Linked DNA regions of Homo sapiens. The protein of the gene in region 3 purifies or fractionates together with the protein of the main gene of each other region. This does not show direct contact. Each region holds a gene or a part of one and is shown on either strand. Other genes may lie near its edges.

Region 1 (3,500 bases), on a different chromosome or scaffold from region 3:
CGATGAACTTTTTGCAGTGGAGTCCATGTTAGATTGGAAGAGCCCCAGCGTCTGTCCATGTCCAGGCCTGGAATGCGGGTCCTCTGAGTGCCCTGGCTCCCCAGGGCCTGGCCCTGCCTTTAGACCCCTCACTCTCAAACACCTTCTCAGTACCTTGCTCCCAACTGTGGTCCGGAAATGCTTGCTGTTTGGCTTGATGACTTGCTTTGCAGATTTAACTGTAATCATTGAACCAAAAGGAGAAGGAGGAGTTGGATTTTCTTGAAAAAAGTTGGCACAGAGATGAAACTGGAAGGAACAGAGAGGATCTCAATGTCCAAAAGCAACTGCCCACAGTACTCACTCATACAAGCCACGTAAATGGTGACAACAACTCAGCTAAACTAGTGGGCGGTGAACAACCTCACCAACATCTACAGCCAAATCTCAATTCCACAAGACGATCGTCTTTCATAGGGATGGCCCGTGACTTCTTTCCCGAGAAGGGGAACAGAGAAGAAAAGTGTGTAAATGTCTGTATGTGGGTATCACTCTAAGTGTCAGAAAGTGGAAACATCTACTATTCTCACCTCCGTGCCTGGCTCACACTGTGTCTCCACCTGCAATCTCCTCCCTCCTACTCCACATTCTCATCCCTGCAGATCCAAACCCTACCCAGGAATCTCTTAAAATGTTTTCCAGCCCCACCCACTTCGCAATGAATGAATTAATCCCAACTTCTCTGAACCGTCTTCATCTTGTATTTGTACCTCATTTAAAGCACTTACTACCTTCTGCTTTGTATCAGTTATTTCTTTAAATGTCTTATCTTCTCTCAGAGTGAATTTCATATTTTGTTTTGTTTTGTTTTGTTTTGAGACAGGGTCTTGCTCTGCTGCCCAGAAGAAGAGTGCAGTGGCGCAATCATGGCTCACTGCAGCCTCTATCTCCCAGGGCCAAGCAGTCTTCCCCACCTCAGCCTCCCAAGTAGCTGGGACTACAGGCATGTCACCATTCCCTGCTAATGTTTTTTTATATTTTTAGAAGAGACAGGGTCTTGCTTTTTTGGCCAGGCTGGTCTCAAACTTCTGGCCTCAAGCAATCCACCCGCCTCTGCCTCCCAAAATGCGGGGATTACAGGCGTGAGCCACCACGTCTGGCTGGAATTGTGATTCTTCAATGGTTCTATTAGCTGTCCTTCCTGTCATCTGCATGTTTGATTTCTGATTTTGCATATAGTAGAGATTTACAGTAGTTATCTTTTTGAATCTGTGAGCTACAACTTACCACTGTCCAGAGAGTTCACACACACACACACACACACTCTCTCTCTCTCTCTCCTTACTCTTTCCTTATATACATCTAGATCCATGTCAATTATATAATAACTTTAGTTACCCCTAGGACTTTACAGACCTTGCTTGCTCTCAGGATTTCAACCAGCATGTCATAGACGGTGTCTCTGTTTTTCTCCAGGAAACCTTCACATTTATACTCTACCTATACAGAGAAAGCAATTAATTATTCCCAAAGAGGCCAAAGAATATAGCCTCTAAGCACAAGTTTCATCTCTTTTTTAAGAAAGATTAATAAAAAAGGCTACAGAGGCAATCTTACAAAAAGACGTCTGGCTTCTGTGCATCATGGCAGCAGCCCCATTATGTATAAGCTGGGAATGTGTCTTCTCTCCCACCACCTGGGTTTCTCACCTGCCTGCTGATCACTCTGCACTCACCTGTTGGCTCCCTCTGGCCACAGGGGTCCAGTTGCTCCCTGCGGTATGTGCAGTTCCTACAAGAACACCTGACTTAGGTCTCCCTTTGCCTTTGAAGCCACCAGGAGGAGGAAAAAGCTTAGTGGTGTTCATTGGGTTCAAACAGACATCGTTTCCTAAATCAACATTAATGTGGTAGAAAGGATAGAAAAACCGACCAGCTGACCACCAAGCCTTCAAGAGCCACCAAGCCCTCAGAATCAGGTTTAGAGTGGGTCAACCTTTGCACTGCTTGAATCTAGCTTAGAAAAACTCTCCATGCTGCCCTTTCTGATGAAGAAGGCTTCTCGAATGCCTCAAACCATGGCATATCCAGGGTGGCTGCTTCAACATTCAACCTCCCCCTAGTTTATGCCTCTGGATTGCATATCTTAATATGTGATAATTTATTTTTCATAAATTAAAAACGTATATTAAAATTAATTTTAAAAATTGACAATGAGGAAACAGGGGAGAGTGCTGGAATCCGTAAGCAGAGGGTTCCCTGGGCATGGCCTCTGCTTTGTCCCCCAGGTAAGGAAGTATCCTTGCCGGTAGGTAGGTTAAGATCCAGGAACACCGGCTGTTTGCAAACACTTCTTTGTGAATGAAGTACCTGGATTGTTGTACAAATTCTTCCAGAATGGTGGTGTGAGCCACTAGGACAGATAGACAAAGGTGGCAAATACAGAGCTTTCCTGGTCTGGGCGAGCATCTGTGGGGACAGTGTCACATGCAGCTGGTGCCTCTGTTGGGGACTCTGGGACCAAAGGAAGATGTGCTGAGCTGCTACATCTAAGCTCAGCTGACTTGCATTCAATACGACCTGATTTCCCTGGCCAATGAGATTGAAAACCTAATCTAACCCCATAGTGCATGTGGGTTCTTCCCACCAATCAATCCATAGTCCAGCCCAAACGCTGCCTAGTTCTTTTAAGGGAGACTTCTTGGAAGTGGCAGGTGAGAGAATTACATGTCCAGAAACTACATCCTATAAAGAGAGACCCTTGAAAGAAATCCCATATGTGCTTTTTATGGAGTCTGGTCTTTCCCCCTCCCTTTTCCTATGGGACCAGAACCCTGAAATTATGACAATAGCTAGGAAATATAATTTGACATATGATCATTTCATTTCATAGGCATCTTTTCAGGAGCCCATCTGAAAAAGTCTAAGCACTAAAAACTTATCTTTTTTTTTTCTTTTTCTTTTTCTTTTTTTTTTTTGAGACAGGGTCTCACTCTGTCAGCCAGGCTGGAGTGCAGTGGCGTGATCTTGGCTCAATGCAACCTCCGCCTCCCAGGTTCCAGCAATTTTCCTGCCTCAGCCACCTGAGTAGCTGGGATTACAGGTGCGTGCCACCACGCCTGGCTTATTTTTGTATTTTTTAGTAAAGATGGGGTTTCGCCATGTTGGCCAGGCTGGTCTCAAACTCCTGGTCTCAAGCGATCCACCCGCCTCAGCCTCCCAAAGTGCTGGGATTACAGGTGTGAGCCACTGCACCCGGCCAATCCTATATTTTAATATTTTACAGTACTCTGCTAGCACACAAAGGTGATCACAGCTTTCCAGGTTGCTGTCCCCTCCCTCCACCATCAGTCACTCGGGAATGACCAGCTCTGACTCACAGCACCGGCCTCTGCGATAAACATAGACAAGCACAAGCCATTCCTGTGAGCCCTGGCACTGGGCTAGGCCACCAAGGCAACACCCAACCAGGACATGGGAGGAGGTAGGAGCTCCCTTAAGGAAGGAAAACAAATAAGAATG
Region 2 (3,500 bases), on a different chromosome or scaffold from region 3:
ACGCCTGTAATCCCAGCACTTTGGGAGGCCGAGGCGGGCGGATCACCAGGTCAGGAGATCGAGATCATCCTGGCTAACACGGTAAAACCCTGTCTCTACTAAAAATACAATACAAAAAAATCAGCCGGGCGCGGTGGCGGGCACCTGTAGTCCCAGCTACTCGGGAGGCTGAGGCAGGAGAATGGCGTGAACCTGGGAGGTGGAGCTTGCAGTGAGCCGAGATCGCACCACCGCACTCCAGCGTGGGTGACAGAGAAAGACTCCGACTCAAAAAAAAAAAAAAAAAAAGGTCAGGGCTGGGACTAGAAGCCACGACTACAGCTGAGTGAAGCTTGAGCCCCTGAGCATTGCTGGGCACTGAGGGGGACACGGGGAGGCAGCAGCCACTGGCACTGGGGATGGTCGGAGACGCAAAAGGGACTCTGTGGGAAGCACAGGCATGGGGGGTGCAGGGGCGGCCCCACCTGCAAATGCCACTCAGGGTTTCTGGCAGGGGTGGGAAGGCAGCAAGACAGGGCGATTGTAAAATGTAAGTATATAATGTGGTATCTGGAAAAACAAAACCACTTCTGAACTAGAGAACAGGTGGTCCGGACACAGGAGTGAGTGTGGGGCCTATCTGCCACCCCGTCCTGGGGCCAGTCTAGCTCAGTGTGTGCAGGGCGCCTGTGAAGTGTGCGTGGCGGTGGGGACAGAGACAGCAAGGCCAGCTCGGGCAAGGCCCAAGGAACCAGGACACACGAGGACAGAGGCCAAGCTGCAGGCAGAGCCAGGCCAGAGGCTCCAAAGACAGTCTGGATTGGGGGATGCAGGGAGGGTGGAGTGTGGGGGATGAGGAAAAACAGTGACACTGGGAGGGAACAGGACAGAGGAGCATCTGGGATGTTTCCAGGCTGTGGGAAATGGTAAGACAGAGCCGCGTAGAGGCAGCACCCGGAGGACCCTACAGGAAGCTGCAGCAGACGCAGAGGTGGAGAGCGGGCAGGACGTCAGGGCGGGCAGGAGGTCAGGGCACACACCTGGTCTGGGCACACACTTGGTCTGGACAGGCTTCCCGCCCCTGCCCCACGGCACCCGGAGGGCATGCTCCTCATCCCACACCCAAACATCCATGACCAGCGCCGTTTCTGCTCCTCCCTGGCCTGCCTGCCAAACCATAAATGCCACCACGGCCCCCCAAAGTGCCCCTGCCCCACCGTCTGCCCACAAGCACCCTCACCGTGACTGCCCATGTGGGCTGAGGAGAAGCCGCTAAGCGTGTTGCGTCCCGACGCGTCGGCGTAGCGGGGCATGGAGCTGACCACAGCCTGCAGGTACTTCTCCTGCTCCAGGCTACTCGAGTCCGCCTGGGACTGGCCTGGGGGAGGACACGGAGCTGAGGGAGGGGAGGGTGAGATAGGGCAGGGCAGGCACAGGGCAGGACGCAGGAGGTACCTGGAGAAGGTGCGTTCTGGGCCTTGAAGAGGCCGACGACACCTTTGCCATGCAGGCCTCCAGAGCGCAGCAGCACCGCCTTGGACCGCCCGCTGCGCCAGCAGACCACGGGGAAGCGGTTCTGGCGGTAGCAGCGGGACACGCGCTGCAGGGCGTTGTCCTGGACACTCTGGGGCACGATCAGCAGCCCTGGGTAGCTGAGAGGAGGCAGAGGCGTGAAGGTGGCTGGCGACCCCACCCGCCTCCAGGCTCACGCCCCAAGCAGGGCAAGAGGAGCCAGCCCATGGCTCCCAGCAGGAGGCGCTTCCAGCTCAGCCACGGGGCCCCCCAGCCACCCCCCAGCCCTGTGGCCCGTCCCTCTGCCCGGAGTCTCCCCCTCCACATTCCTTACATGACCAGAAGCCGTGGCCCAGGCCCACAGCGGGCAGGGAAGACACCCAGTCACGTGTCCACCACCCGGGCCAGCCCTGGCCGGCCCTCACCTGCGGCAGATGGCATACATGCGGTTGACCGGAGAAATGCGGAAGGGCTCAGACTTGGCCCGGCTCAGGCTGCTGCTCAGGGTGCCCAGACCGAGGCGCTGGTAGTCGCGACAGCAAGCCCTTTCCACCAGGCTGCTCATGGTCATGCGGTCGGAGGGCTTCAGGGCTGAGGACGGGGTCAGCGTGCTGGGCTCCAGCTCCTCCGACACTGCACAGGCCGGGCACACGTGGTCATCACGGGGCCACTCCGCCTGCCCTGATCCTCCCTGGCCAATGTCAGCATCCAGAGACCACCCAGGACTCCACCCCCACCCCTCCACCTGAGATCTCGTCCTCCTGGTCCTCAGGGGGCGGCTGGCCCCGGTGCTCCCAGCTGGGGGGGTTGTACTTCTTGCGAGTGACATGCTGCCGCCCGATGGTCTTCTTGGCGTTCTTGACCAGGTTCCGGGACAGGGTTCTGAGGCCCACGAGAGTCAGCAAAGGTGAGAGGAGGAGGGACAAAGATGAGCACAGGGGCCTAGGAGGGTTGGAGCGGGAACACGGCTGAGGCCCAGCTGCCCTGCCTGGGACCCAGATCCATACCTGAGGGAAGGACCCTTGTCCTTGGTGACTCGCGGTGGCCGGCCAGGTGTGTGGGCAGAGCCCAAGGTGAACGCAAAGGTGGCCCTGATGTCCGGCGGGTACCGCAGCTTATGCAGCTGCTTACGGAAGAGCTCGGCGCTGTCAGACCCCACCTCCTCGTCAAAGGCCATTTTCAGCAGCTGTGTCAGTAAAAGCAGCCCTTAGGGGTGTGGGTGGCCCCCCAGCCCCTCCCCCAACTCTGACACTGCCAGGCTCCCCTTCCCCTCGCAGCCATGACAGAGAGAGAAGCAGGCCCCAGGCAAAGGCCTGTATCTGTGTCACACGAAGGCAAGCGCTTGTGTAAACTCGAAATCTCAGTGGCTGTGAGCTGAGGCCTGGGTTTGCAAGGCACACCCAAGACACGGACTTGAGGGCCGGCGCCCCAAGGAAAGGACAAGGACCCAAAGACCGCACATCAAACAGTGGACATCAACTCAAGAGCCACAGTGAGGGCCCCAGACATGCAAGCGTAACAACAGGGCCACTGCTGGAGACTGGCCTAAAAATGGTTCATACAAGAAAGACCGGTTTGCAGGAGAAAGACCAGGGCGGGGGATGAGAGCCCCACCCGCGCACCGCGCCCCACCTGGAATGTGCAGGAGCGCAGCTGGAGCCCGTCCTGCAGGAGCTGGTCCACAGGGGTCTGGACGCTGATGCGCTTCTCCTTGGTCAGCGCAGCCACCGGGAAGGAGCGGACCACCACCTGCTCCCCAACTTAGGACAGGCCAGGCAGAGTCAGAAGCAAGGAAGGTAAGGGGGGGGGGGTCCCAGAATCTCAGGGTACCACAGTTATGGGGAATCCCAAGTGGGTGGGGAAGGAGCAGACAAAGGCCCGTTTCCCACGGGCACCCAGAACCCCCGAGAAAAGGGAGAGGGAGGCAGGGAAAGCCCATCCATCCCAAAGACCTGGGGGAGAGGGGGCGACAGGGCCAGAGAGTCTGCAGGCTCACCCAGGGGGTCCGT
Region 3 (3,500 bases):
ATAATGAAGGTAAAATAGTTGCAAACCTTTGTTAACTGAATAGAAAAATTTAAATACATAAAGTCAAAACTTAGATATTCTAGGAAGAAGTGGACACAAATACAATTGTATCACATCACAGAACAAGCTAAAGCAAAACAAAAAAAACACCCTATGACTTATAAATGAAAATAAAGAAATCAAGTCAATCTCTTAAATAAACCCTTGGATCAAAGGAGAAACAAAAATTATAATTACAGGCTATTTAGAAAAGAATGGCAATGAAGAGTAGTCCCAAAACTTAGGATATGAGGCCAAAATGGAAGAACATATTTTGTCCTTAATAAGAAGACTTAATACCCTTGAAACATTAGCTATACCAAAATTAATATATAAACACTAGAATTCTAATGTTTAAAAAACCTGGATACAAAATTTTAAATTTCACAAAAGAAAAAATGAGAGTTGACAAAAAATTATATCAAATAAAAAAGCAACATGGGAAGGACTTTTATGTATATCTAAGATCTAGTGTAAAGCTATATGGTTTGGATCTGTGTCCCCACCGAATCTCATGTTGAAATGTAATCCCCAGTGTTGGAGGTGGGCCCTGGTGGGAGGTGGATAGACCATGGGACAGAGTTCTCATGAATGGGTTAGCTCCATCCCCTAGGTTCTGTTCTCAAGCTAGTGAGTTATCATGAGACCAGGTTGTTGAAAAGTGTGTAACAACTCCCTTCCCACTCCTGTTCTGGCCGTGTAAGACGTGCCTGCTTCCCCAGGACTGTAAGTTTTCTGAGGCCTCCCCAGAAGGAGAAGCCACTATACTTCCTGTTAAACCTCTTTTCTTTATAAATTACCCAGTCTTAACTATTTCTTTATAGGAGAATGGACTTATACAAGCTAGTAGAATAAAACAGAATAGCTTTGCTATAGAATGATGGATAGGACAGAGAATTAGAAGTAGATACAGGTATATACAGAAAACTTAGTATATAATGAAGGTGGGAAAACGATGACTTATTATTATAATATTTAGTAAATGGTGCTGGCAAAATCAGCTATGCATCTACAATAAAATAAGATTGAATTGAATTTATACTTACTATTGCATATTATATGGCTCTAAAAAGTATCTGTTGGAACTATATCATTTTTTTCTAAAGATTGTAAAAGAGAAATTTAGTTAAGATAGAAGAGCAAATATCGATGAAACCAGCATGGCATGATCCAAAAAAATTTTAAAACAATCAAACATCAAAAGCAAACAGACAACAACAAACCCACCATAAATGCATCCACATGTTTGTGTGGTCACGAAAAGAAAGGAGCAATAGGACCAGGTTAGGCCACGAACATGAGTTATCTGAGAGTGGGGGTTATCAGTGTTTTCTTGGTAGATCTCTGTGTTGTTTCACTGTATAAAATGAACACTTCTTACTTTTGTGGTTTGGGGAAGATAGATTCAAGAATACAGTTTTAGTGAAGGGGCCTCTGGTGTGTCGTCTGATTGGTTGCTTTCTTGACTGTCAGATCTTACCACATAGGACTGGTGAGAGCTGTGGTGCAGAGAATAAGCCTTCAAGGCCGGACAGAGGACAAGTAGCTCTGGATGCCCAGGACCATGCTAGGTGGGGGAGTCCAGGCAGGTCAAGATGCCAGGCTGCCAAGTGCAAGAGCTTGGGCTTCTGGTCTTGCCTCTGTCACTTTCCCTGTAAGTGCTAGGAGAAGCCAGTTCCCCTCTCTGAGTCCTGGCCTCAGACCAGCAGGCATAGGAACATCCAGGCCGGATTGTCCTTATCATTCTCATCGACACACGCCCCCTTACCCAATGCTATGCCTAGCCGCATCAGGGTCCATGGCCAGCACTGTGCCAATCAGAGGCTTCTTCTGGTTTTCCTTCAGCTGGAAGTGGTAGAAAGGCTGCTGGAAAATGGGGGGCTCGTCCACATCTGTGATGTTGATAATGACCTGGGCTCTGTTTCCCGCGGGAGGGCTCATGTATCGGAGGTCGATGGTGGGGTCTGTGGCCTCGACGATGAAGCTGTATTGCTGGATGTATTCATAATCCAGAGGCTGCGTAAGGAAAAAGGATGGTGAGTGCCTGCTCTGGGCCAAGCATGTGTGTGGCACATGATCTGCACAGCAACTATGCAAGGTAGTACCAGGATGACACCCATTTTATAGATGAGGGGCCCATGGCCTCGACAAGTGATATTTCTGAGGTCATCAAGACAGCGGCTGGGCCTGGTGTCTGTCTTCAGCTGCTCCCCATTTCATCTCAGCAGCCTCATGGCCACACCCACAACCCTGGCTGTGTGCCTGGCCCTATTTCCAGCGTTTGGGACATAGAATGGATCAACTATGGTCCTGCTCTTAAGAGCGTCACTAGTGGTTCTACCCACAGGTCCTTAAGGACAGGCTTTTTCTTTGTTCTTGAGACAGAATATTGCTCTTGGTACCCAGATTGGAGTGCAATGGCACGACCTCCGCTCACTACAACTTCCACCTCCCAGGTTCAAGCGATTCTCCTGCCTCAGCCTTCCAAGTAGCTGGGATTACAGGCACCTGCCACCACGCCCAGCTAATTTTGGTATTTTTAGTAGAGACGGGGTTTCACCATATTGGCCAGGCTGGTCTCAAACTCCTGACCTCAGGTGATCCACCTGCCTCGGCCTCACAAAGTGCTGGGATTAGAGGCGTGAACCACCGGGCCCGGCCGGACATGCTTTTTCTTTATGCCTTTGCTCAAGATCCTTCTCCTGCCCTTGCCTGCCTAGAAAACTCCTACTCATCCCTCAGGAAGCCAAGCAGAAGGTAATCAGATGCTCTCTCAGAAACCCCTCCTAGCAGAGGTAATTGCTCCCTGTTCAGAGCTGCTGTGTATCACTTACACCTGGCTGTACTTTTTTTGTTCATGCATATGTCTTCCCCATTCGCTGAGACCTTTGCTGACACTGGAGGCTGTGTCTGCCTCTCCTTGGTGTTTCCAAGCCCCAGCATGGGGCTGGTTCAGAGAAGGACTCAGGCCCAGGACTTGCAATCCTCTGCATGGCCATTCCAGAGGCATTTTTTATGCCCCTCACAGGACCTCTCCCTCCTCTTCCAGATTCAGTTAATCTGGCTTCTCTGGCTGTCAGCAGCATCCAGTGTCAGTGGCCATCCATGTCACCACAATTACTCACTGTTTTCTTCATGCTGATGGATTTCTACTGGCCAGGACACATGGCAGGCCAGAAAGTGCCAGAGAGGTAATAACTCCAGGGGCAGCCCCCAGTCAACACCACGGACAGCGGGTGTATAAATACCCCAGCTCCTTCACCCTCAGCTTCTCCAACTCTGGGATGTGTTCCACACTTACCCCGCAGTGGGTCATTGCTCCTGGGGCTTCCTGGGATCACCTCCCAGATAAACAATTTACACCCAGTCATGGCCTTAAGATTTGCTTCCCAAGTAACTCGGCCTAAGACACTGGATCACAGTCTCCATGAACACATGACCACCTTGGAGCTTTGATGGTC
Region 4 (3,500 bases), on a different chromosome or scaffold from region 3:
GGCATGATCCTAGCTCACTGCATCCTCAAACTCCTGAGCTCAAGCATTCCTCCCATCTTAGTCTTCCTGATAGCTAGGACTATGAGAACATACTACTGAGCTAATTAGCACCCGGGCTAAGTTTTAAATTTTTTGTGGGGATGGTGTCTTGCTCTGTTGCCCAGGCTACCCTCAAGGAATCCTCCTGCTTCAGCCTCCGAAATGCTGGGATTAAAGTCATGGGCCACCATACCCAGCCTACAGATAGCATTTCATTAAGTGGAGACCTCAGGCTTTATTCTGAGGGAGGGTATTTAGATTGCTCCTATTCCACCTTTATAAACAATGCTGTAATGAATGTCTAGCCTTTGTCAAAGAGCGGAAAAAATTCTCATCAATTTTTAACACTTCTAGGCTTTTCCCCAAATGGCCAGATTGATTTCCAGAAGGACTGGACTAATTTCCAGTGCCATAACTGGTAATGGGTGTGCATATAGTTTTGTCATGTCCTTGTCAGCACTGGGTATTATCCTTTTTTCAAAATTTTGGCTTACATAACAGTCATGAAACTATTGGGGTGGGCTGGGTGTGGTGGTTCACGCCTGTAATCCCAGCACTTTGGGAGGCAGAGGCGGGTGAATTGCCTGAGGTCAGGAGTTTGAAACCAGCCTGGCCAACATAGTGAAACCCTGTCTCTACCAAAAACTACAGAAATTAGCCGGGCGTGATGGCACACGCCTGTAATCCCAGCTACTTGGGAGGCTGAGGCATGAGAATTGCTTGAACCCGGGAGGCGGAGGTTGTAGTGACCTGAGATCGTGCCACTGCACTCCAGCCTGGGTGACAGAGCGAGACTCTATCTCAAAAAAAAAAACAAAAAAACTTATTGGGGTGCTTGGCTGGGTGTGGTGGCTCACATCTGTAATCCCAGCACTTTGGGAGGCTGAGGTGTGAGGATCACTTGAGGCCAGGAGTTCTAGACCAGCCTGGGCAGCATAGTGAGACCCCCATCTTTATAAAAAGAAAAAAATACATTAAAAGAAAAAAACGAACTATTCGTGCTTTAGCTGAAGCTCAGTAATGACAGTTCTGTCTCCTGTCCCGCGCTTCCTTGTTCCTGTCATATTCCCCGTCCATCTCACACTCATTCCCTCTTTACCCATAGCTGATCATCCTGGCCAATGGTGGGCCCCAGGCCCTCGTGCAGATCATGCGTAACTACAGTTATGAAAAGCTGCTCTGGACCACCAGTCGTGTGCTCAAGGTGCTATCCGTGTGTCCCAGCAATAAGCCTGCCATTGTGGAGGCTGGTGAGTATGATGGCCTTGAGGGCGGCTGGGGTGGGAGCTCTGCCCAGCTGCCAGGCTCAGTCAGCCATGCTCCCCGTGGCTGATGGCACCCCTATCCCTGCCCCAGGTGGGATGCAGGCCCTGGGCAAGCACCTGACCAGCAACAGCCCCCGCCTGGTGCAGAACTGCCTGTGGACCCTGCGCAACCTCTCAGATGTGGCCACCAAGCAGGTGAGGGAGGTATCTGGGCCTGGGGTTGACCTCTTCAGCTGCCCCATCCAGCCTCCTGTCTGGGCATCTGACCTGAGGTACTGTGGGAGGACTGGGGGCTCTAAATCTCTCTTCCTTGTGACTGAGGCTGGAAATGCCTTGAAAACCCTCATCTCTTTTTTTTTTTTTTTTTTTTTTTCTGACGGAGTCTCACTCTGTCACCTAGGCTGGAGTGCAGTGGTGCAATCTCGGCTCACTGCAAGCTCCGCCTCCTGGGCTCAAGTGATTCTCCTGCCTCAGCCTCCCGAGTAGTTGGGACTACAGGCACCTGCCATCATGTCTGGCTAATTTTTGTATTTTTATTAGAGACAGGGTTTCACCATGTTGGGCAGGCTGGTCTTGAACTCCTGACCTCAGGTGATCCACCCGCCTTGGCCTCCCAAAGTGCTGGGATTACAGGCGTGAGCCACCACATCCAGCAAAAGAACAGTTTTGACCTGGGCCCTGGGCTGGAGCAATAGTGTACCAAGAGACAGGCCCCCATGACTAAAAATACAATTTAAGGAAAAATGCAGCTCCAGGGCAAGTGCCCTGTGCCTCCTTCCAACAACCATTCCCCAGGCCTCCCCTAGCAATATGCTGTTTATCAAGTGCTCACCCTGTGCTGGCCCTCTGCGTGGCATTTGTGGACAGTAGCTCATTCAACCTGGGGTTAGAGTGTGGGACCCTGTGGGTTAGATGAAGACACTGAGGCTCGGGGAGCTAATGGCCATGGTCACAGGTAGTAAATGGCAGAACTGGGATTTGAACCCAGGACTGTCCGTCCCCAAAGCTGGGGTTTTTCTGTTCCACCACAAGGCCCACGTGTCTCCCTGGGAGAAGTGAGATAGACGTCTGAGGTAGTGATTTTACTGGAAATGGATTTGGCTCAGGGCCCCAGGGTGGTGGGGCAGCAGTGAAGGCCCAGAAAGGTGACAAGCGAGTAGACATGGCTCAGCTGGGCCACTGAATCATGCGGCCCCCTCAACAATTGCCTCCTGGTCTCGAGGCCTCCCTTGGCCACCGTACTTTGGCCTGAGGAGGGTTCTGCCTGGGTCTGAGGGCCCCAGGGAAAGGCTGATGAGTTGGAGGGAAGAGATGTGGGGCTTAGAGCCAAGCCTGGGTTCAGATCCAGCCACTAGCTGTGTGTCTGTGGGCAAGTTCCCCAACCTCTCTGAGCCTCATTGCCTCACTTGCACCACAGGATAGTAACGCCCTCTCACAGGGTGTGGCGGGTCATAGGGATGAAAGTTCCCGGGCACACACAGGCAGGGCTGACCCCTTTAGGTCATCCCACTCCCCTTGGACATATTCGAGAAGGCTCCCTGGAGTTGGCTGCTCCCTGACTCCCCCGTCCCTTCCTTGCCCTCCAGGAGGGCCTGGAGAGTGTGCTGAAGATTCTGGTGAATCAGCTGAGTGTGGATGACGTCAACGTCCTCACCTGTGCCACGGGCACACTCTCCAACCTGACATGCAACAACAGCAAGAACAAGACGCTGGTGACACAGAACAGCGGTGTGGAGGCTCTCATCCATGCCATCCTGCGTGCTGGTGACAAGGACGACATCACGGAGCCTGCCGTCTGCGCTCTGCGCCACCTCACTAGCCGCCACCCTGAGGCCGAGATGGCCCAGAACTCTGTGCGTCTCAACTATGGCATCCCAGCCATCGTGAAGCTGCTCAACCAGCCCAACCAGTGGCCACTGGTCAAGGTACTGCTGTTAGGCGAGGGGAAGGAGCTCCCTGCAGCAGGCTTAGGTGCTGTATTGGTATAGGCAAAGCCGCTGTAGCAAAGAAGCCCTAAATACAGTGGCTCGAATAAGACAGAAGTTTATTTCTCTCTCGTGTAATAGTTTAGACCTCAACAATGGCTCTGCTCTAAAATTCCAGAATTGGGATTTCTATCTTGTAGCTCTACCAGCCCCTAGGGCAGAGCTCAGAGTTCAAAATGCACATGAGTACCCTGGGTGGTTTCATTAAATT

Evidence for each region. Proteins that work in one complex are often made in the same cells at the same time.
Region 1: the proteins of CDH5 (region 3) and MYO5C purify together in Homo sapiens (affinity purification with mass spectrometry; 2 studies listed by BioGRID and IntAct, with this or other methods). This does not show direct contact.
Region 2: the proteins of CDH5 (region 3) and SBF1 purify together in Homo sapiens (affinity purification with mass spectrometry; 2 studies listed by BioGRID and IntAct, with this or other methods). This does not show direct contact.
Region 4: the proteins of CDH5 (region 3) and JUP purify together in Homo sapiens (affinity purification with western blotting; 3 studies listed by BioGRID and IntAct, with this or other methods). This does not show direct contact.

What each region holds. Positions count from the first base shown.
Region 1 is NC_000015.10:52,247,305-52,250,804, forward strand, and holds part of MYO5C (unconventional myosin-Vc), read right to left. Parts: intron 1,480-3,500; coding exon 1,396-1,479; intron 289-1,395; coding exon 154-288; intron 1-153. UniProt on the Homo sapiens protein: May be involved in transferrin trafficking. Likely to power actin-based membrane trafficking in many physiologically crucial tissues.
Region 2 is NC_000022.11:50,458,036-50,461,535, forward strand, and holds part of SBF1 (myotubularin-related protein 5), read right to left. Parts: coding exon 3,488-3,500; intron 3,252-3,487; coding exon 3,124-3,251; intron 2,678-3,123; coding exon 2,499-2,677; intron 2,374-2,498; coding exon 2,237-2,373; intron 2,125-2,236; coding exon 1,917-2,124; intron 1,632-1,916; coding exon 1,435-1,631; intron 1,358-1,434; coding exon 1,220-1,357; intron 1-1,219. UniProt on the Homo sapiens protein: Acts as an adapter for the phosphatase MTMR2 to regulate MTMR2 catalytic activity and subcellular location. Promotes the exchange of GDP to GTP, converting inactive GDP-bound Rab proteins into their active GTP-bound form.
Region 3 is NC_000016.10:66,390,691-66,394,190, reverse strand, and holds part of CDH5 (cadherin-5 preproprotein), read right to left. Parts: intron 2,056-3,500; coding exon 1,808-2,055; intron 1-1,807. UniProt on the Homo sapiens protein: Cadherins are calcium-dependent cell adhesion proteins. They preferentially interact with themselves in a homophilic manner in connecting cells; cadherins may thus contribute to the sorting of heterogeneous cell types.
Region 4 is NC_000017.11:41,762,712-41,766,211, reverse strand, and holds part of JUP (junction plakoglobin), read left to right. Parts: intron 1-1,144; coding exon 1,145-1,289; intron 1,290-1,395; coding exon 1,396-1,499; intron 1,500-2,890; coding exon 2,891-3,229; intron 3,230-3,500. UniProt on the Homo sapiens protein: Common junctional plaque protein. The membrane-associated plaques are architectural elements in an important strategic position to influence the arrangement and function of both the cytoskeleton and the cells within the tissue.